Linked DNA regions of Homo sapiens: all the other regions are reported to be linked to region 1. The links are microRNA targets in miRTarBase. Many come from high-throughput screens and were not tested one by one. Region 1 holds a microRNA gene; each other region holds the end of a gene's coding sequence.

Region 1 (5,375 bases):
GATTTTTTTTTTCCTAGTTAGTCTTCATGTTAAGTACAATCTTACCTCAAAATTGTTAATGTCTGTGGTTTAAAAAAAAACATGAATCAGAAATGGTGTGGGTAGTTTAGAAAATGAGTTAGGTTCAGGTGGCCGGTTAGCTCAGTTGGTCAGAAAATGAGTTAGGTTCATCTGGGAAGACTTCCTGGGAGAAAAGACCCTGGGTTCTGAGGTAAAGTGGAGTAGGGATAAGATGTGCAAGGCAGGAAGGGAGTTGATTCCTTAGGTAAGTGAATTATTGGAGGTGAGGGGTATGTCTGGCTCCTGAGTCAGCCACGATGTGCCTCCTTGTCTTCCCCCTTGTCCCCAGGAGTCCAGATTACATCCTACCCTGCAGTCCTGGATGGCGCCTCCGACTTGCAGCTTCCTTCCTGCTTTCCGTCTTCCCGCTGCTAGACCTTCTTCCAGTTGCTTTGCCACCAGGGGCAGGCCCAGGACCCATAGGGCTAGAGGTGTTGGCAGGGTGCGTGGCAGCTGTGGCCTGGATCAGCCACAGCCTGGCCCTGTGGGTGTTGGCACATTCCCCTCATGGCCACTCCCGGGGTCCCTTGGCCTTGGCCCTGGTAGCCTTGCTGCCAGCTCCAGCCCTAGTGCTGACCGTGTTGTGGCATTGCCAGCGAGGCACACTTCTGCCCCCACTTCTCCCAGGGCCCATGGCCCGCCTATGCTTGCTCATCCTGCAGCTGGCTGCACTCTTGGCCTATGCACTGGGATGGGCAGCTCCTGGGGGACCACGAGAACCCTGGGCTCAGGAGCCCCTCCTGCCCGAGGATCAAGAACCTGAGGTGGCTGAAGATGGGGAGAGTTGGCTGTCACGCTTTTCCTATGCCTGGCTGGCACCCTTGCTGGCCCGTGGGGCCTGTGGAGAGCTCCGGCAGCCTCAGGACATTTGCCGCCTCCCCCACAGACTGCAGCCAACCTACCTGGCTCGTGTCTTCCAGGCACACTGGCAGGAGGGGGCACGGCTGTGGAGGGCCTTGTATGGGGCCTTTGGACGGTGCTATCTGGCACTTGGACTGCTGAAGCTGGTGGGGACCATGTTGGGATTCTCAGGGCCCCTGTTGCTCTCCCTACTGGTGGGCTTCCTGGAAGAGGGGCAGGAGCCACTAAGCCACGGCCTGCTCTATGCTCTGGGGCTAGCCGGTGGGGCTGTGCTGGGTGCTGTGCTGCAGAATCAGTATGGGTATGAGGTATATAAGGTAACACTTCAGGCACGGGGGGCTGTGCTGAACATCCTGTACTGCAAGGCTTTACAGCTGGGGCCCAGCCGCCCTCCTACTGGGGAGGCCCTGAACCTACTAGGCACTGACTCTGAACGGCTGCTTAACTTTGCTGGGAGCTTCCATGAAGCCTGGGGCCTGCCCCTGCAACTGGCCATCACCCTCTACCTGCTGTACCAGCAGGTAGGCGTGGCCTTCGTGGGTGGTCTCATCTTGGCACTGCTGCTGGTACCCGTCAACAAAGTGATTGCCACCCGCATCATGGCCAGCAACCAGGAAATGCTACAGCACAAGGATGCGCGGGTTAAGGTGAGCGGGTACTTGGGGTCCCTCAGCTATCTGGAGACCCCACCCAGCCCAGGTCCCCAGGTCTTCCCATGCACACTACCTGAGGGAGTGAGAGTGACCTCAAAGTTAAGAGCTGAGACTGGAGAAAGGTAGACCTGGGTTCAAATCCTGGCTCTACACTTACTGGTTCAATCACTTCAGACAAGTCACTTAACCTATTTGGGCTTCCCCTTCCTCATCTGTAAAGTGAGAATAGTAGTAGCTTACCTTGTAGAGTTGTAAGGATCTCATGAGATAATGCTTAGTGTAGTGCCAGTCACAAAGTAAGCTCTGAATACATGTGGCCACCCTGGGAGGTAGGAAGTCATCTGTCTGGCTCCAAACAGGTCTTTAGGGCCAGAGCTGGGACCCAAGTCTCCAACCTCCTTATCTAGGGCACAGACCACCCCATGGCTGCATGTAGAGACCTAGGAGAACCTCAGCTGCCTCTTTGGGTAGGCTGAGGGGAAGGGAATAGGTCACTTTCCTGCCTGGGTCAACTCCAGGTGTTTAGGGTTTGGCTGAATCTGCAGAGCTCTGGGTTCTGCAGTGATTGTGGGTACCTTCACAAAGGGGATGGCAGTCCTGGGGGTTCATACAGCATAGTTGTCGACCCTTAGTGGAACAGCTCAGAGTGCTCCTGGAGGGAAGGGAGGTTGATAGATGGTTATGGCATGAGGCATTTTCCCCTACCTGTGACAGCTACAGACGAGGAGTTTTGGCCCTTGCCCATCTTCCCTGGGCCCATTAGCCTGTTTGACCCTGGGCTGTAGTGTGGCCTCTTATGCCTGTGTACTTCTACAGGAATAGTTTCTGTGCCACTCAAGCCGGGGGCCGGAACTGGGGGGCCAGCCCCCGAAGCCCACATCTTTTGGTTTTGGGAGATAGCCCTTTGTCCCTCATCTAATGGGAGGAGAGCTTTTACTCCACTGTGGTGACCTGGCTCCACCTTCCACCACTCCTCCTAGGAAGGTGGGGAATTCCCACTCCAAGCTGTCCCCAGCTGGAGCAAATGGAGAAGTAAGAGACTGGGAGGGGAAGCAACCCAGGGCTGAAAAGGATTTGAAGGGCAGGATTTCCAGAAAGTACTGAGGTGAGGAAGAAAACCAAGACTAGGGCAGTGCAGAGTATCTGGGAGCTTAGAGTACTGAACATTCTGCCAGCAGCCTGGGGAAGGCTTGGCAGGGAAGACACATGAGCAGTGCCTCCACTTCACGCCTCTCCCTTGTCTCCTTTCCCTAGCTTGTGACAGAGCTGCTGAGTGGCATTCGGGTCATCAAGTTCTGCGGGTGGGAGCAGGCACTGGGAGCCCGAGTAGAGGCCTGCCGGGCTCGAGAGCTGGGGCGACTCCGGGTCATCAAATACCTGGATGCGGCCTGTGTATACCTGTGGGCTGCCCTACCGGTTGTCATCTCCATCGTTATCTTCATCACCTATGTCCTCATGGGGCACCAGCTCACTGCCACCAAGGTGAGGACCAGGAAGGAAGGGGACCAGCATCAAGGAGACTTCAGCGAAGTGAAGACAGAGGCTTGGGCCCTCAGTGCTGGCTGAGAAGGAGGGAGGGATCCCTGACTGCCTCATCTCTCAACCAAGGGAAAACTGAAGAAACCTTTTTGTGGGGGCCTTGGATATATAACCCTCCCCTCTGTGAAGGAGTTCCTTTCTTTCCTCTCCTCTACCTTTCACTCCAGCTTCTATTCAGTTCCAGGCTTGGGGTTAGGTCTCTTCATCCTCGTTCTAATGGCCTTAGGAAAAAAATGTATGATGCAATCCTGGGTCTAGCCAAGGCCAGGTGATGTTGCTACTTGGAAATTCTAAAAAAAAGACTCAAAATGAGCTAGGCCTGCCTAGTTAAAAAGATGCAACCTTGGCCAGGCGTGGTGGCTCACACCTGTAATTCCAGCACTTTGGGAGGCCAAGGCAGGCGGATCACCTGATGTCAGGAGTTCGAGACCAGCCTGACCAACATGGTGAAACCTTGTCTCTACTAAAAATATAAAAATTAACCAGGTGTGGTGATGCATGCCTGTGATCCCAGCTACTCAGGAGGCTAGGGTAGGAGAATCACTTGAACCCTGGAGGTGGAAGTTGCAGTGAGCCGAGATTATGCCACTGCACTCCAGCTTAGGTGACAGAGCAAGACTCGTCAAGAAAAAAAAAAATGCAACCTGAATCCCTTGAGGAACATTGGAATTTCTAGGATTCTTTAAGTGACCATCTCTGCCACATCTGATCCCAGGATTGGCCAGCCAGCCCTTCAGTTCTGTCATTGCCCAGTTCTTCCCTCCGTAGACCTGTCCACAGGGCTTCCCATAGAAACAGGCCCTTAGATAACTCCTGGGGCTTCACCCTGCACCCACCTCACTCAGGTGTTCACGGCCCTGGCACTGGTGCGAATGCTCATTCTTCCTCTCAACAACTTCCCTTGGGTGATCAATGGTCTCCTGGAGGCCAAAGTGTCCTTGGACCGGATCCAGCTTTTCCTCGACCTTCCAAACCACAACCCCCAGGCCTACTACAGCCCAGGTAATGGGAAGCTAGTGGGCAGAACCTGGCACAGGGTGAGGAGGGAAGTGGAGCCACTTGGGTGCTGCGCATAGATGTCACCAAGAGGGCTTAGAGAGAGCGGAATCCAAAACAGACTCATTTAGCTTTGGGCAGGTAGATATGGGGCTGGCAAGTGAATTACATGATTTACCCTCCCCAAACAGATTGTGGTAGATTAGGAGCCCAAATCAAGTGGCTTCTCTGTTCAGATCCCCCTGCAGAGCCATCTACAGTATTGGAGCTGCATGGAGCCTTGTTCTCCTGGGACCCAGTTGGAACCAGCCTGGAGACCTTCATCAGTCATCTCGAAGTGAAAAAGGTTTGTTGGACAGACACCCTGGGAGAGTCCTCAGACTAACGAGAGAGATGGGAACTCATGTCAGAGAAGCAGTGACCGAGCCAATCATAGCTGATGGCTCTGCAGCTCTAATTGCTGCAGGAGGGATAGGCATTTGGTGAGCAGGTTCTAATCATGAGGAGATGACACCTCACATCTGAATCTCAGAATAGTTGCACCTCTCTCTGGTCTTTAGGCAGCTTGTATCCATCCAGTCCAGACCAATGGGTGTGCTTGTCTCTCCATGTCCCTCAGAAGCTGCAGCATTCAGAACAGGCCCTGGGGTTTATGTAGCATCTCCCCCAGATTGGGGATCTGGGGGAGAGGCCCAGCAAGTGCTTCCAAGAAATATTTTGCAAATGGGGATCCTCTGTTTAGGCTGGTGAAAAGCAATCACACCCTGTGACTCATGCTACAGCATACAAAGAACTTAAAATGGGGCATTCCTGGCAATAAGCCAACTCCTGTTCACCTCCTGTTCTGAGTTTTCACTCTCTCCTGACCTTTGTCCAACCCTGTGCCCCACAGCTCAACCCGGCATTCTCTGGTGGTGGCTGAATTGCCTCCACCACATTTGGCTCACGTTTCTGGCTTGGGCTGTATGTTTTGTTTTTCCTCTTAGTTCAGGCAAGACAAGGCTAGATTTGTACAAAGGAATTTTGCTAATGTGTTAGTTGGGGCTTTTTTGGGTATAAGTTACAGAAACACACTAGAGCTAGCTTAAGCAAACAAGAATTTATAATAAGGATGTAGAGATACATTGCAGAATCCAAAGGCAGGAACGCAGCTGGATCTTAGAAACAGCCCAGAACCAGGCCTCAACTCGCAGAGCTCTCTGCTTCTGTGTGCCTCTCTCCCTGTATTTGCCTGGTTCTCTTCTCTCTGTGGACACACCCTCCACT
Region 2 (5,187 bases), not on the chromosome of region 1:
GACAGATGAGGAGGTGGCTTCAGAGAGCTTATGGCTCTCGAGGGCAGAGCTGGCACCAGCCCTTGAGCCAACAGCAAAGCCTGTGCTCTGTCCAAGGAAGGGATTTACTAGGGCAGCCTGTGATCTCCTCTAACCACCACTCCCTTGTCACCCAGGAAATCCAAGGAGAATCCTCGGAACTTCTCGGATAACCAGCTGCAAGAGGGCAAGAACGTGATCGGGTTACAGATGGGCACCAACCGCGGGGCGTCTCAGGCAGGCATGACTGGCTACGGGATGCCACGCCAGATCCTCTGATCCCACCCCAGGCCTTGCCCCTGCCCTCCCACGAATGGTTAATATATATGTAGATATATATTTTAGCAGTGACATTCCCAGAGAGCCCCAGAGCTCTCAAGCTCCTTTCTGTCAGGGTGGGGGGTTCAGCCTGTCCTGTCACCTCTGAGGTGCCTGCTGGCATCCTCTCCCCCATGCTTACTAATACATTCCCTTCCCCATAGCCATCAAAACTGGACCAACTGGCCTCTTCCTTTCCCCTGGGACCAAAATTTAGGGGCCTCAGTCCCTCACCGCCATGCCCTGGCCTATTCTGTCTCTCCTTCTTCCCCCTGGCCTGTTCTGTCTCTGAGCTCTGTGTCCTCCGTTCATTCCATGGCTGGGAGTCACTGATGCTGCCTCTGCCTTCTGATGCTGGACTGGCCTTGCTTCTACAAGTATGCTTCTCCCACAGCTGTGGCTGCAGGAACTTAATTTATAGGGAGGAGCCTGTGGCAGCTGCTGCCCCAGCCACAGCTGCACTGACTGTGCTCACCACACATCTGGGGCAGCCTTCCCTGGCAGGGGCCCTCGTGGCTTCTCATTTTCCATTCCCTTCACTGTGGCTAAGGGGTGGGGTGAGGGGATGGAGAGGGAGGGCTGCCTACCATGGTCTGGGGCTTGAGGAAGATGAGTTTGTTGATTTAAATAAAGAATTTGTCATTTTTGAATGGACTCTGGCTGTGTCTGGGGCCACTGTGCCACTGTGGGGAAGGGAGGAATACTGGGCAAAGTGCAGTGAGTGATACAGGAAGGAGGGCAGAGATGAGAGGTTGCAGTGCTAACCCCTGTCTTGAGTTTCCTCCCCATCCTCATTCTCACTTGCTTTGGGGGGTGGTGTAGGTTGGAATTGAGAGGGGACAGGACCTCACAGCTGAATGCAGACTATGTAGGCAGTGTCCACAGGGAAGTAAGGCCCTTTCTAGTCAATGGAATTGGCTAATCCTGCCTGCTGCCTTTGGCTGGGTCTGCCTCTACAGTTGGAACAGCTTCTCAGTCACTGAGAGGGTGGGGCTGGCTGCTGGCACAGCCATCAGTCCTGGCAAGTGAAGCTGTCTCCAGGTGAGAGGTCCCTCAGGCGGGCTTGGGGTGAGGTGGTCTGTGTTGGAGTGGTGAGGGTGGGGGTTGCAGTGGTGAGGAAACGTGGAGAGCTGGGGAATGAGCAGGAGTGAGTTGGTGGTGGTCGCTGGAGGGAAGAAGCCGTGTTGATTGATCCTAAGCACCTGTGAACTAAGTGCCTGGGAGAGACTAAAACTTCCTTTCTAGGGTGTGGCCTTGGGCCATGATCATCAATTTTGGGTCAGGTTGTCTCTAGCACCTATCCTTGACCGAGGCATGAGTGTTCCACCCACAGTTTCTTTTTTTTTCTTTTCTTTTTTTTTTTGAGACAGAGTCTTGCTTTGTCACCCAGGCTGTAGTGCAGTAGCATGATCGCTCTTGTTCTCCAGGCTGGAGTGCAGTGGCATGATCTCGGCTCACTGCGACCTCCGCCTCCCAGGTTCAAGCGATTCTCCTGCCTCAGCCTCCTGAGTAGCTGGGATTACAGGCATGTGCCACCACGCCTGGCTAATTTTTTTGTATTTTTAGTAGAGACGGGGTTTTTCCACGTTGGTCAGGCTGGTCTTGAACTCCCGACCTCAGGTGATCTGCCAGCCTCGGCCTCCCAAAGTGCTGGGATTACAGATGTGAGCCACCGTGCCTGGCTATTTTTTGTATTTTTTATAGAGATGGGGTTTCACCATGTTGGCCAGCCTGGTCTCGAACCCCTGAGCTCAAGCGATCTGCCTGACCTCATGGCTCTGCCTTTTCTTGCCATCTCCCAACTCCCCAGCCTCAGCCTCCCAAAGTGCTGGGAGCCCCACCCATAGTTTCTAACCACTAGGTGTTACCTTTACCCCAAGGCTTCCCAGTCAGACTCTGTGTCTCCCCAGGGGGAATTTGAGGGACGCTGGGCCAGTCTGACATTAAGTTCCAGCCCCATCAGCCTCACCCAGAGGCCTGGCCTTCCTTGCCCCTTTCCCCTTTTCTACCTGAGGGTATCTCTGTCTCCTAGGAGGAGAAAGCCACAACACTGTGCCTGAGGGAAACAGGTTTGTATCCAGAGCTTTTGTTCTCTCCCCTTTTGTTCCCCTGCTTCTCTGAGGCTCCCTCTTCCAAAAAGCACCCACTAGGGGCGAGGCCCAATGCCAATTCTTCATAGCCATGGCTGTCAGCCTCATCCCCACACCACGCTTAGCCTTGCCACACCACACCTCGGGAGAGACTGTATTTGCTTGCTTGCTGCACTCCCACAGGCTGTGGCACAGATAAGATAGGCTGCAGCCTATGGGCAAATTCCCAGGGGATTAGATCCTTTATCTCTCATTCAGGAAGGCTTTGTGGAATGCTAGTCAGGGAGAGTGATGTCATTGCAGAGAAAACATTGAATTCGCTATGTATACTAAAACAACAAGCCGTTTGCCACCTTCCCTGGTTTAACTATTTATAGCTATAAATTATTGGCCACACGCCTCACAACTCTGAGAAATGCCATTTGTTACAGTGCCAGCGCTGAGAACCACTGCCTTCTCCCAGAAGATTCTCACAAACGCCCAGGAGGTGGATATTACTGTAATGTGTTCCCCATTTTGTCTTTAGATGAGGATACTGGTCTCAGAAGGGCCAAGGAATGTGCCCAGGGCCACAAAGCAATTAAGGGAGAAGCAGGGATTTGCATCCAATCAAGCTGGCTCTGAACCTGGCTGAGCCTGTGCAGCTCTAGGCTCAGCAAGAAGTGAAGCTGTCAAGGGACTAGGGGACAGAGGTGGTGGTGGGTGGCAGGGCAATGCTCCTCATCTGTAAGCTGAAGATGATAATTCCTTCCTCGTGAAGTTGCCGTGAGGATTAGATGAACCCTGGAAAGCACTTTGCATGGGGAATGCTAGCACATAGTGCTCAGGAAATGGAAGTGTGGGGAATAAAAGGTGGAACATTTGTGTATGGACCCTGGGCTGAGAGGGAGCTGATGCCCAGCAGTTTCATGCCCTTCACCACTGTCCTGTTGAACACGGGCCAAGATGCTTTCAGTGGCCCTATCCCCTTTACCTGGAACAGCTTATTTTCAAGGGAGACACCAGCTGTATTTGAGAGGGGCTCAGCCATTGGGCTCACCTTCTTCTGGCTGCACCCACCACCACCCAAGCCTTGTGAGGAATCTCAATGTTCCCTTAATTCATCTAACTGCAGACTCAGCTGCTTCCTTCTGGAGCCGGCCTCCAGTGGCATCTCAACATTTTCCAGCTTTCTGTTTGTCTGCTTTCTAGCATTTTGTCTCACCTGAGGTTACAATTTCATCCTTAACTTGGCTTCTCTCATCTCTGACCCCACTTCAGGCCCTGGGGCCCAGACTAGGCACCAGCCTGTGTATGGTTCTGCCTTTTCTTGCCATCTCCCAACACCTTATTCTGTGTGGCTGTCTACAGTGGTGTCTCTCTCTCTTTCTTACATTTTTCTTTATTATTATTATTATTAATTATTATACTTTAAGTTCTAGGGTACATGTGCATAACGTGCAGGTTTGTTACATAGGTATACATGGGCCATGTTAGTTTGCTGCACCTATCAGCTCGTCATTTACATTAGGCATTTCTCCTAACGCTATCTCTCCCCCAGCCTCCCACCTCCACAACAGGCCCCGGTATGTGATGTTTCCCTCCCTGTGTCCATGTGTTCTCATTGTTCAACTCTTTCTTTCTTTCTTTCTTTTTTTTTTTTTTTAACTTTAAGCTCTGGGATACAGGTGCTGGACATGCAGGTTTGTTGCATAGGTATACGTGTGCCCTGGTGGTTTGCTCCACCTATCAACCCATCACCTAGGTTTTAAGCCCCGCATACATTAACTGTTTGTCCTGATGCTCACCCTCCCCTCGCCACACCCCTTCCCCGACCACAGACCCTGGTATGTCTTGTTCCCCTCTCTGTCTACGTGTTCTCATTGTTCAACGCGCTACAGAGGTGTCTCCTAACACTCTGCACTTGCAGGGCTTCTCCTGCCGCCTGGAACAATCTCCTTCCAGGTGCTGCCCTCACTTGCTCCTTTATCTCCTTCAGGTTTTTGTTTAGACGTCATCTTCCCTGATCACCTCATTTAAAACTGCACACTTCACCCTCAGCCTGGACCCCGTGCTCCATTCCTGCTTTCTTTTATCACCACCTGACACCCAATATATTTTACTTATTTATTTTCTGTCCCCACCCATAGAATGTAAACTACACAAAGGCAGGCTTTTGTTGGTTTTGCTCATGTAGAGTAGTGGTTGGCATGTTGTAGGTGCTGGATAAATATTTGTTGAATGAATGAGTGAGCATGACACCACCCTCATGCTCCTCAGCCCCCTGGCTTGGCAACACAGTGCCCAGCCAGCCCAAGGGCCTAGCAACCCAGCCTTTCATCATATCTGAGATACAGCCCAGCTCATGTCTCTGCTTCCAATGCTTCCAGATTATTCATTTCCAAAAAATAAAAACCCAAGAAGCTGCATTTCCTACAGATAGAGGAGAGGAGGTTGGAGGGTGGATTGCATGCTCTGGACACATGGAAGGTGATTTGAGGATTTGGGGGAAAAAAATGGGAGGAGGGCAGGAGGAAGAGGTAGGAGCCAGCTTGGGTTCATTTGCTCCTTGCCTTCAGCCTGGAAGTGGAAAATCACTGTGGAGGTGGAGGGAAAGTAGGCTTGGCCCATGATGGCCAATGGAAAGGAGAGTTGGGGAAGGGAGGCAGAGAGGAGGAGGAAGAGGGGGAGAAGGAAGAAGGTTTCAGATGCTCCACCCAGTTTGGCTCACCTGTGGGTAACAAGCGTAGCTCTCTGCAGCCTATTCATATGCGTGTGAGTG
Region 3 (5,187 bases), not on the chromosome of region 1:
AAAAGGAGGCGGGCAGTGACTCCTGAGGGGAAGGAATGTTCTTAGTCTCGGGGAAGAGTTGAGAGACTGTGTGCGGTGGCCCGATATCTCCAGAAGAGGAGGGGAGAGGGCCCTGCGACTTGAGGAAGGGTTCCCGGCCACTCTGAAGTGGGGGAAGGCTACCAGTAGCTGCCGAGGTCCCGTGACTCGAGTGGGAGAGTAGGCAGAGGACCCTGGAGACGGGGAAAGGGGCATCTTGGCGAGTTTGGCGGGGCTGGCGGAGAAGGGACCCGGGGCTCTGAGGAGGGAGCTGGGGAATCAGTGCCCTGGGGGGCACGATGACTTCGGATTCGCTGACACCGGGGGAGGGCAGAGGTTCCTGACCTTGCAGGGGAAGGGAGCCTCATCACTGCGGGGGAGAGGGCAATCCCAGATATTACAGGGGGAGGGCGTATCCCTGTTGTTCAGGGTGAAGAGGTCCTGGGTGACTCCCAGTAGGAGAGCTGACTGCTCAACTCCGGAGGCCAGAGTGAGCCGCGGCACGGAACCGACGGGGGTGGGGTCTCCCTGGGTGGGTCCTGGAGCCTGGCCCAGCCCAATGACAGTCCCGCCCGCGCCCGCTGCGCTCAGGTGCCGACGGACCCCGGCCACTTTTCGGTGCTGCTAGACGTGAAGCACTTCTCGCCGGAGGAAATTGCTGTCAAGGTGGTGGGCGAACACGTGGAGGTGCACGCGCGCCACGAGGAGCGCCCGGTGAGCCGCGGCGTGGGGCGGGGCTGGAGCGGGTACGCTCGCCGCCGGGCCGGAGGGGCGGGGCCGCTCAAGCCTCCCTCCCCTCCAGGATGAGCACGGATTCGTCGCGCGCGAGTTCCACCGTCGCTACCGCCTGCCGCCTGGCGTGGATCCGGCTGCCGTGACGTCCGCGCTGTCCCCCGAGGGCGTCCTGTCCATCCAGGCCGCACCAGCGTCGGCCCAGGCCCCACCGCCAGCCGCAGCCAAGTAGGAGGGGGCTGGGCCGCGCCCGCACCCCGGGAGCCTCCTCAGGCTCCCTCTATTAAAGCCGATCTGACTCCGCCCAGCCAGATGTCCCGAGTGCGCCAAGGACTGTCCTCTCACCCACTCCTGGATTCTGCCCTGACCTCCATCCTGGACACTGCCTTGATAACATAGACCCTTCCACTGACACCCTCGCTCTCACACCCCCTCCAGCTTTCCGACCCCACACCGACAACTCCCCGGCTTCCAGACCCTACCAGCACTACCCTAACCCTCAGCCGACAGTCTCAGCCCCACCGACCCACTTTCTTGGCATATAGCCCCACTTAAGACCCCTCCTCTACTTCCTTCTGAGTCCTCTACAAAGACATCCGGGTACTACATTTCCATCCCTTCCCTATTTTGACACCAAATTATGGTGTAGACAGCCCTCCCCCAACCCCAGGCCAGTCAGGCACAATCCCCCCACCCCCCAAACGTCCTGGACTGCACAGACCTCCCACTCCAGACCATCCAGGCCTGGTTCCCAAGACCCGATCCTTCCCCTGCAACCAGACAGTCTACAACTGCCCCCTCCAGCCCATTTTCTGCCGTGAAACCCCAGCCAGCCACACCAGACTCTGGAACCCTTTTTCGACTGCCCCAACTCTTGGACACCAGGCCAACTAGAACACCCAACACCAAACTGTACAGACTCTCCCACCCCAACCTCCCCAGACTCTGCACGGATGTCCTAGGCCCCCTCCCCAACTCTAACCAGACCCCATCCCCCTAAGTCCCTTTGTCTTGACCCCCAAGTCTTCAACCAGATATCCTCGGCAACCCACCTCCCACCCTCCTCCTCTTCTCCTTCAAGACCCAACTGAGCACCCGCTCTGATTCCCCACAGCCTTTCTCCCTGCCACCACTCCCTTAGTCTTTCCCAGGCTTACTCTCCCAATAAATGTGCTAGAGCTCTGCCAACTGCTTTGTGCCTGGGCCAGGAAGGAGGGACCGGAGCAGACACCAGTGTGGAGCTGGGGGATGTTTACTGGTGTGGGGGGACCTGGGAACATCACTGTCGTTCGTACATCTCTCGTAGGATCTTCATGCTTTCTGAGTAACGAAGCTGGTTCCGATGAGAGGCCTCCTTCCACCTGGGGAGGCAGAGGGGAGACTCAGCAGTTGCAAAGGGCCCTACGAGGGGCAAGCAGGCTGGGGGACGCTCACCTCTGGCGGATGCGTTTCCAGCGCTGCATGTTGCGATAGATGAGTGTGGAGGGTGAGGGCTCGGGCTCAGAGGGCTGCATGGACAGACAGGCCAGGTTGAGTGGCCATTCCTGAGCCCTACCGCATGTGCCCCATAACCCTGGGCCAGCCTGGCATACTCACCTCATCGTCAGGGGTGCCCTGCATCTCAGGCTGCAGTGGAGATGGGATGCGGGATCTGCAGGCATCTCCGGGTGGCCCCGGGGGTGTGGGTGGCGGCAGCTTGTACACATCACGACTCTTGCTGTTGGTTACCTCTGAGCCCTGGGGACACAAGGGCCCCATGCCAGGCCCAAGAGAGTCAAAGCAGAGGGGCTGGGAATCCACATTCATCCCTCCTGCCTTTCCCAGCAACAAATGGCATGAGGGGCTCGCTAAGGGACTCAGACAGGAGGCATGTATGAAGGGCAGACACCTCAACCAGCCAGCGGGTCAAGTGTGCCTGCCCCAGGGACCCCTGTCTTCTCCTATCCAGCCCAGAGACTCCATCTACACCTGTCAGCCCAGGGAGTCGCGTCTGCCTGCCTCAGGGAATCCTGTCTAGGGGGTCACGTCTGTGCCACCTAGGAAGCTCTGTCCATTTCTGACAGTCCTATATGTCTGAAGGGTCCTATATGTCTGTCCTGGGGACCCTTGTCTACCCCGCTGGGTCAGATGGCTTATAGACTCCCATCCATTCCTGCCCAGCCCCTGCTCCTCAAGGCCTGGTGGCCACTTCTGTCTGTACTAAGGACCCTTGTCTAGCCCCTCGGCTCTTGGGAACCCCTGATCTTGGAGGTCCACATCTAACTGTCCAGGGTAACCCTGTTCCCTGTCTCCCAGGCCAGGTGGTTACGTATGTCTTCCCTAGGGACTCTGATCCACACCCCAACCTAAGAGTGCACATCTGTGTGCCTAGCCTGATCCAGGATTCACGTGAGGGACCTGTGTCTGTCTATCCCACTAGCTTAGGGGCAGGATCCTTTGAGCCTATCCACCCACTGCCCTGGCACCAGGCTGCTGGGCTGGGACCCACTACCCATCCCACCTCCTCATCCTCAGGCAGCGGGGGCAGGGGTGAGCTGGGAGAGCATTCACGCTCGCGCACAGAGGGGCTGTTGCGCATCCAGGCGCGGCAGATTGGGTACAGTGGCGTGTTCTCGCTGAACTGGGCCAAGTCCACGCTCCGGTCGAACAGCTTGATCACATATGTGTCTGGGAAGGTGGGGATGGGAGGTGTGTGAGCATCCTTGCATAGGCCCTTGGCTCCTTACCGACCCTCTAGGGCCACTGTCTACTCACTGGATCGCTGCGGCCCTCCCTCAGCCAGCCCATCATCCATCTCCCTCCTCTTCTTCCTCCGCTGGTGGGGGAAGCGGGCAGATGGCCTGCGTAGGGAGAGGGAGTGTCAGGACTGGGGTAGGAGCTGGGAGCCTCTAGTCAGCTGGCTGGGACCCTGCCACCTTACCTTTTGCCAGTGGCTGCGATGGAGCAGTCCCTGTGGGGAAAGACAGTTGACCCTCAGACAAACGCCTGTGCAAAACCCTGCAGAGGGCACCCTGGGGATACTGGTATCAAACCTGAGATGCTCACATGAACCCCACTTGCCTCTTGGGCCTTTTGTCCCACCCATACCCATGGGGGTCTAGGTGGCAACCACGGGGGGACCTAAGCTTCTCCTGCCACAGGGTCTTTGTACAGGTGGAGTGGTCCGGGCCACGATGGAGGTAGCGCTGGGCTGAGCGGTCAGGGCTTGGATAAGGAAAGAAGTTACCAACCACGAACTCTCAACTCCAAATCCAATCAGAAAAACTCACTTATTGTGGGTGTCTGAGGGTGTTTTCCCAGCTTCCTCATCCAGACGCTCCCTAGAGGCAGAAGAGATCTCTCAGCTCAGGGTTCCAGGGCCCCAGAGAAGGAAGGCACCGAGCAGCCTCCCCATTAAGCACCTTCCTCCCCAAGTCAGCCTGTGGGGTCCCACCCAATCCACCCAGGATCAGAGGGCCCAACCCACCAGGGTGCCCGGCCCTGTGACCCCACGCTGGCCTACCTGTCCATGTGACTCTTCTCCAGCAGACACTGCAAGACAGCATCCAGTTGGTTCCGGGCTTTGGCCATCTCCAGCTCTGGGGCAAGAGAGGACCCAGCAGGAGTCAGCTCCCAGGCCCCAGCTAGGTGGGCAGCTGACTGGGCCAGGGAAGGGCGTGCGTGTCCTCTGCCCTGGCCAATCTCAGAGCCAGGCCCAGGCAGCCTGAAAGGGTGCAACAGGCAGAGATGGCTGGAGTGATGCCCAGAGCTCTGAGTTCCAGAGCTGTCCCACGTGATTGCTCTGTGACAGGAGGTAAGGCCAATCACCTTACCTTATGAGCCTTTTGGGTTTTAAAAAAATGTGTTTTAATATAATATAAATTTATTACAAAAAAATTGTATAGAGATGGAGTCTTAATGATATTGACCAAGCTGGTCTTGAACTCCTAGATTCAGGTGAGCCATCTCGGCTTCCCAAAGTGCTGGGATTACAGGTGTGAGCCACTGTGCCTGTCCCAGTGGCAAGGTTTAAATATGCTATATATTACAAATAATAACCCACTGAATTATCACAATAACCCTTAGAGGTAGATGTGATTTTTTTTTTTCTTGAAAAAGGATATCACGATGTTGTCCGGTTTTGAACTCCTGGGCTCAAGCGGTCCTGCTGTCTCAGCCTCCCAAGTAGCTGGGGCTATAGGCACATGCCATAGAGCCCAGCTCAGATAGATATGATTTTTATTCCTATTTTAAAGATGATGAAACTGAGGCACAGAGATGTTAGGCCACGTGCTCAAAGGCACACAGCAAAGAAATTGCAGAGCTGATGATTTGAACCCAGGCTGTCTGGTTCCAAAGCTGAAGTTATGAGACAGAGGCTCAACCTGAGTGCAGAATCTGGTTGAGGCAGTGGTATAATTTTATTTTAATTAATTAATGTATTTCTGTTTTGTGAGA
Region 4 (5,187 bases), not on the chromosome of region 1:
CGCCGGGCCTCTGTACTCTTTTTAGTATTGCCTTTAATTTTTACCAGTCGGGAGCCTTTCCTAGGACCTAGCCTCCTGCCTGCCCACTTCCTAGGATGTTGGAGCTGAGAGGGTCCTAGAGACCACCTTGTTTTCATCCTGCCACTGGAGAGGGGGCAGGGGTTTCACTCGGCGTTGCCTAGAGGTGCTTCTGTTGAAGCCTCTGCAATGGGGGGGGCTCTTCCCAGTTCTCCTCCTTCCACAGATTGTTCTAGAACTGCCAAGACTGTGGGCACCCTGCTCCTTTCTCCTCATCTTGCCAGCCCTGTAGGGAGGGGCAGGATAGGTTGCAGTCCATCCTTCAGCCCCTTGGGGGATGTCTTTCTCAAATGTACAACAGAGACGGGGCAGTCACAGCTAATGTGCCACGCACTCGCTTGGTGCCCAGCTCTCTGCTGAAGGCATTCCGTGTTTGTCCTCTGCCTCCAGGTCTCATGTCCTGGATGAGGATGTGACCTCCGAGACATGGACATTAGCCCAGGCGGGGGGAGGAGCTGGAATAGGGTGGGCGAGACTGTCGCCTCGCTGCCCCTGGAGCTGACCATCCCCACTCCCATCACCATACTCAGTCCCCTGCTAACTGCCCCTTCTCTCTCTTTTCCCCAGAGACAAGAGGAGCAGCAGCGGCACCGCCCCTCACCCTGGAGGGTCCTGTACAATCTCATCATGGGACTCCTGCCCTTACCCAGGGGCCACAGAGCCCCCGAGATGGAGCCCAATTAGGTGCCTGCACCCGCCCGGTGGACGTCAGGGACTCGGGGGGCAGGCCCCTCCCACCTCCTGACACCCTGGCCAGCGCGGGGGACTTTCTCTGCACCATGTAGCATACTGGACTCCCAGCCCTGCCTGTCCCGGGGGCGGGCCGGGGCAGCCACTCCAGCCCCAGCCCAGCCTGGGGTGCACTGACGGAGATGCGGACTCCTGGGTCCCTGGCCAAGAAGCCAGGAGAGGGACGGCTGATGGACTCAGCATCGGAAGGTGGCGGTGACCGAGGGGGTGGGGACTGAGCCGCCCGCCTCTGCCGCCCACCACCATCTCAGGAAAGGCTGTTGTGCTGGTGCCCGTTCCAGCTGCAGGGGTGACACTGGGAGGGGGGGGCTCTCCTCTCGGTGCTCCTTCACTCTGGGCCTGGCCTCAGGCCCCTGGTGCTTCCCCCCCTCCTCCTGGGAGGGGGCCCGTGAAGAGCAAATGAGCCAAACGTGACCACTAGCCTCCTGGAGCCAGAGAGTGGGGCTCGTTTGCCGGTTGCTCCAGCCCGGCGCCCAGCCATCTTCCCTGAGCCAGCCGGCGGGTGGTGGGCATGCCTGCCTCACCTTCATCAGGGGGTGGCCAGGAGGGGCCCAGACTGTGAATCCTGTGCTCTGCCCGTGACCGCCCCCCGCCCCATCAATCCCATTGCATAGGTTTAGAGAGAGCACGTGTGACCACTGGCATTCATTTGGGGGGTGGGAGATTTTGGCTGAAGCCGCCCCAGCCTTAGTCCCCAGGGCCAAGCGCTGGGGGGAAGACGGGGAGTCAGGGAGGGGGGGAAATCTCGGAAGAGGGAGGAGTCTGGGAGTGGGGAGGGATGGCCCAGCCTGTAAGATACTGTATATGCGCTGCTGTAGATACCGGAATGAATTTTCTGTACATGTTTGGTTAATTTTTTTTGTACATGATTTTTGTATGTTTCCTTTTCAATAAAATCAGATTGGAACAGTGGATACTCTTTCTGCTTGCCTTCCCTGCAGCCTGGCCTTGGAGAGGCTTCTGATCGGGGGCTCTGCTCTGTGAGCCCTGCTTGTGAGTGGGTGGGAGAGGTGGGCCCTGGCAGTTGTGGCTCCATCAGAAGAAAGGCTAAGGGGCCTGGGCTTCTCCAGACCGGGACGCTCCTAGCCTTCATCATCCCCATTCCCGGTAAAAGTGAAGCTTGGCCTGGTGCCATGGCTCATGCCTGTAATCCCAGCACTTTGAGAGGCCGAGGTGGGTAGATCTCTTGAACCCAGGAGTTCAAGACCATCCTGGGCAACACGATGAAACTCCGTCTCTACAAAAATAAAAAAATAAAAAAAATTAGCCAGGCATGGTGGTGTGTGTCTGTAGTCCCAGCTACTCAGGAGGCTGAGGCAGGAGGATCACTTGAGCCCAGGAATTGGAGGCTGCAGTGAGCGATGATCAAGCCACTGCACTCAAGCTTGGGTGACAGGGTGAGACCCTGTCTCAAAAACAAAATAAAAAGTGAAGTCCCCATGAGGTGTTGTAGGGGCGCTTGATATTTAATGGATGAGTGAATGACCCGTAACATATTCAGAGGCACCACTGTGACAAGTGCTTGGGATAGAGTCATGAGACAGACCTCGTTTCTGCCGTCACAGAGACAGAAAGGGACATCTGGCCTTGCACTGTGATCAGCCGTAGGCTGCCTCTCCAGCTGGAGGAGCACCTGGAGCTAAGATCACAGTGAGTCTCCGCACACTGCCCTGAGGCCTAACCAGGCTGGTCATAAGCGGCTGTGTTGAGTAAATGTAGAAAGGGTTGCTCCTACTGCCATCTTCTGCAAACAGGGCCATGGCCACACACTGCCCTTGAGCCCTTTCCCTGTGCTGATACCTGACTGGCAGAGACCTCAATGAGAAGCAGGGAGGTAGGCAGATCACCTGAGGTCAGGAGATCGAGACGAGCCTGACCAACATGGCGAAACCCCGTCTCTACTAAAAATACAAAAATTAGCTGAGCGTGGTAGCGAGTGTCTGTAATCCCAGCTACTGAAGAGGCTGAAGCAGGAGAATTGCTTGAACCTAGGAGATAAAGGTTACAGCGAGCCAAGATCCTGCCATTGCATTCTAGCCTAGGTGACAGAGCAAGACCCTGTCTGGAAGGAAGGAAGGAAGGGCATAATCCCAACACTTTGGGAGGCCAAGGTGGGCGAATCACCTGAGATCAGGAGTTCGAGACCAGCTTGGCCAACATGGTGAAACCCTGTCTCTACTAAAAATACAAAAATTAGCCAGGTGTGGCGATGCAAGCCTGTAGTCCCAACTACTCGAGAGGCTGAGACAGGAGAATCCCTTGAACCCGGGAGGCAGAGGTTGCAAGTGAGCCGAGATTGCACCACTGTACGCCAGCCTGGGCGACAGAGGGAGACTGTCTCCAGAAAAAAAAAAAAAAGGAAAGAAAGAGAAAGAAGCAAGGTATAGGCCAGGTGTGGTGGCTCACACCTGTAATCCCAGCACTTTGGGAGGCCGAGGCGGGTGGATCATGAGGTCAGGAGATCGAGACCATCATGGCTAACAAGGTGAAACCCCGTCTCTACTAAAAATACAAAAAATTAGCCGGGCGCGGTGGCGGGCGCCTGTAGTCCCAGCTACTCGGGAGGCTGAGGCAGGAGAATGGCGTGAACCTGGGAAGCGGAGCTTGCAGTGAGCCGAGATTGCGCCACTGCAGTCCGCAGTCCGGCCTGGGCGACAGAGCGAGACTCCGTCTCAAAAAAAAAAAAAAAGAACAGCCTAGAAACATAGCAAGACTCCATCTCCACACACACAAAAATAATTTTTTTAATTCGCTGGGCATGGTGGCACATGCCTATAGTACCCACTACTCAGGAGGATGAGGCAGGGGGATCATAGCTTGAGCCCAGGAGTTGGAAGCTACAGTGAACTATGATCATGCCACTGCACTCCAGGGCAACAGAGGGGGACTCTGAAGCAGGGTATATAATTATATAATATTTACAGACACAGGGTCAGTCCCAGCTCCACCCTTTCCCAACTGTCCTTGCTGCTAAAGGGACACTAGGGGAAATGGCCCATCTGGATGGCCAGGGTGTGGTAACTGGCAACAATCACTTTGGAGAAGCATTTGATAAAACCGTGTGTTGGGATACGAATGTGTCCCCCAAAGTTCTTGGGTTGGAAATTTAACCTGCAGTGCTACAGATTTTAGAAGTGAGACATTTAAGAGATAATTACGTCACCAGGGCTCTGCTCTCAGAAATGCACTAATGCCATGACCATGGAAGTGAGTGAGTTTTCACGGGAATGGATTCCTTATAAAGAATGAGTTCACCCCTCTGTCTCAGATGAGATGCCTTCCGCTATGTTACAAGGAAGCCGGAAGGCCCTCACCAAATACCAGCCCCACCATCTGGGACTTTTCAACCTTCAGATTTGTGAGCCCATAGATTTCTCTTTTTTTTTTTTTTTTTTTTTTTGAGAGGGAGTCTCGCTCTGTCTCCCACAGAATCTCACTCTGTCTCGCAAGCTGGAGTGCAGTGGCACAATCTCAGTTCACTGCATCCTCTGCATCCTGGGTTCAAGCGATTCTCCTGCCTCAGCTTCTCTAGTAGCTGGGATTACAAGCATGCCCCAACATGCCGGGCTAATTTTTTGTAGAAATGGGGTTTCACCATGTTGGCCAGGCTGGTCTTGAACTACTGATCTCAAGTGATCCACCTGCCTTGGCCTCTCAAAAGGCTGGGATTACAGGTGTGAGCCAGCGCGCCCAGACAGATTTCTGTTCATTACACGTTTCCTAGTCTGTGCAATTCCGTTACAGCAAGACAAAACAGACTAAGACATGGTGTCAAGATGAGAATGCACATACCTTGTGGCAGCAATAGCTTTTGTGGGCGTCCCCCTTAGAGGAACACGGGTGCATACAAGTATCCAAGTACTGGCAATGCACAAAACCATCTAAGTATCCAACAGCAGTTGGTAGGGTAAATAGTCCCATGTGGTGGCCAGGCCAGGTGGCTCACACCTGTAATCCCAAAATTTTGGGAGCCCGAGGTCAGGAGTTTGAGACCAGCCTGGCCAACATAGTGAAACCCCATCTCTACTAAAAATACAAAAATTAGCCAGGCGTGGTGGCATGCGCCTGTAGTCCCAGCTACTCAGGAGGCTGAGGCAGGAGAATCGCTTGAACCCGGCAGGTGGAGGTTGTAGTGAGCAGAGATTGTGCTACTGCACTCCAGCCTGGGCTACAGAGTGAGACTCCGTCTCAAAAAAAACAAAAAAACAAAAACAAAAAAAACAATAAAAATACGGCCGGGCAGCCAGGCGCAGTGGCTCATGCCTGTAATCCCAGTACTTTGGGAGGCCAAGGCAGGCGGATCATGAGGTCAGCAGTTCGAGACCAGCCTGACCAACACGGTGAAACCCCAGCTCTACT

What was found. Region 1 holds the annotated microRNA hsa-miR-6780b-5p (UGGGGAAGGCUUGGCAGGGAAGA, at 2,755-2,777, shown strand). A microRNA usually pairs through its seed, bases 2 to 8, with sites in the 3' UTR of a target mRNA and lowers its output. Matches are read on the target gene's strand: a 7mer-m8 pairs with bases 2 to 8, a 7mer-A1 pairs with bases 2 to 7 and ends in A, and an 8mer does both.
Region 2: miRTarBase lists TAGLN2 as a target of hsa-miR-6780b-5p. Seed matches in the 3' UTR shown: 8mer at 490-497 and 7mer-m8 at 602-608.
Region 3: miRTarBase lists HSPB6 as a target of hsa-miR-6780b-5p. Seed matches in the 3' UTR shown: 7mer-m8 at 1,515-1,521 and 7mer-A1 at 1,855-1,861.
Region 4: miRTarBase lists BBC3 as a target of hsa-miR-6780b-5p. Seed matches in the 3' UTR shown: 7mer-m8 at 1,188-1,194.

What each region holds. Positions count from the first base shown.
Region 1 is chr6:43,431,793-43,437,167 of GRCh38, forward strand. It overlaps MIR6780B (microRNA 6780b), which reads left to right and starts at 2,750; the gene lies at 2,750-2,828. ABCC10 (ATP binding cassette subfamily C member 10) reads left to right here. Exons shown (of 22, transcript NM_001198934.2): 3 at 350-1,568; 4 at 2,829-3,056; 5 at 3,959-4,115; 6 at 4,346-4,455.
Region 2 is chr1:159,913,910-159,919,096 of GRCh38, reverse strand. TAGLN2 (transgelin 2) reads left to right here. Exons shown (of 5, transcript NM_003564.3): 5 at 156-986. The coding sequence ends at 297. Among named protein-coding and RNA genes, the nearest start is that of TAGLN2, 9.0 kb to the left of the region's middle. RefSeq lists an enhancer at 291-1,180.
Region 3 is chr19:35,751,317-35,756,503 of GRCh38, reverse strand. It overlaps HSPB6 (heat shock protein family B (small) member 6), which reads left to right. Exons shown (of 3, transcript NM_144617.3): 2 at 610-732; 3 at 821-1,938. The coding sequence ends at 982. It overlaps LIN37 (lin-37 DREAM MuvB core complex component), which reads right to left. Exons shown (of 9, transcript NM_019104.3): 2 at 4,253-4,328; 3 at 4,020-4,070; 4 at 3,671-3,700; 5 at 3,505-3,590; 6 at 3,251-3,417; 7 at 2,347-2,487; 8 at 2,185-2,258; 9 at 1,985-2,111. The coding sequence ends at 2,030. Among named protein-coding and RNA genes, the nearest start is that of HSPB6, 3.1 kb to the left of the region's middle.
Region 4 is chr19:47,217,377-47,222,563 of GRCh38, reverse strand. BBC3 (BCL2 binding component 3) reads left to right here. Exons shown (of 4, transcript NM_014417.5): 4 at 646-1,740. The coding sequence ends at 762. Among named protein-coding and RNA genes, the nearest start is that of MIR3190, 7.0 kb to the left of the region's middle. RefSeq lists a silencer at 2,345-2,545.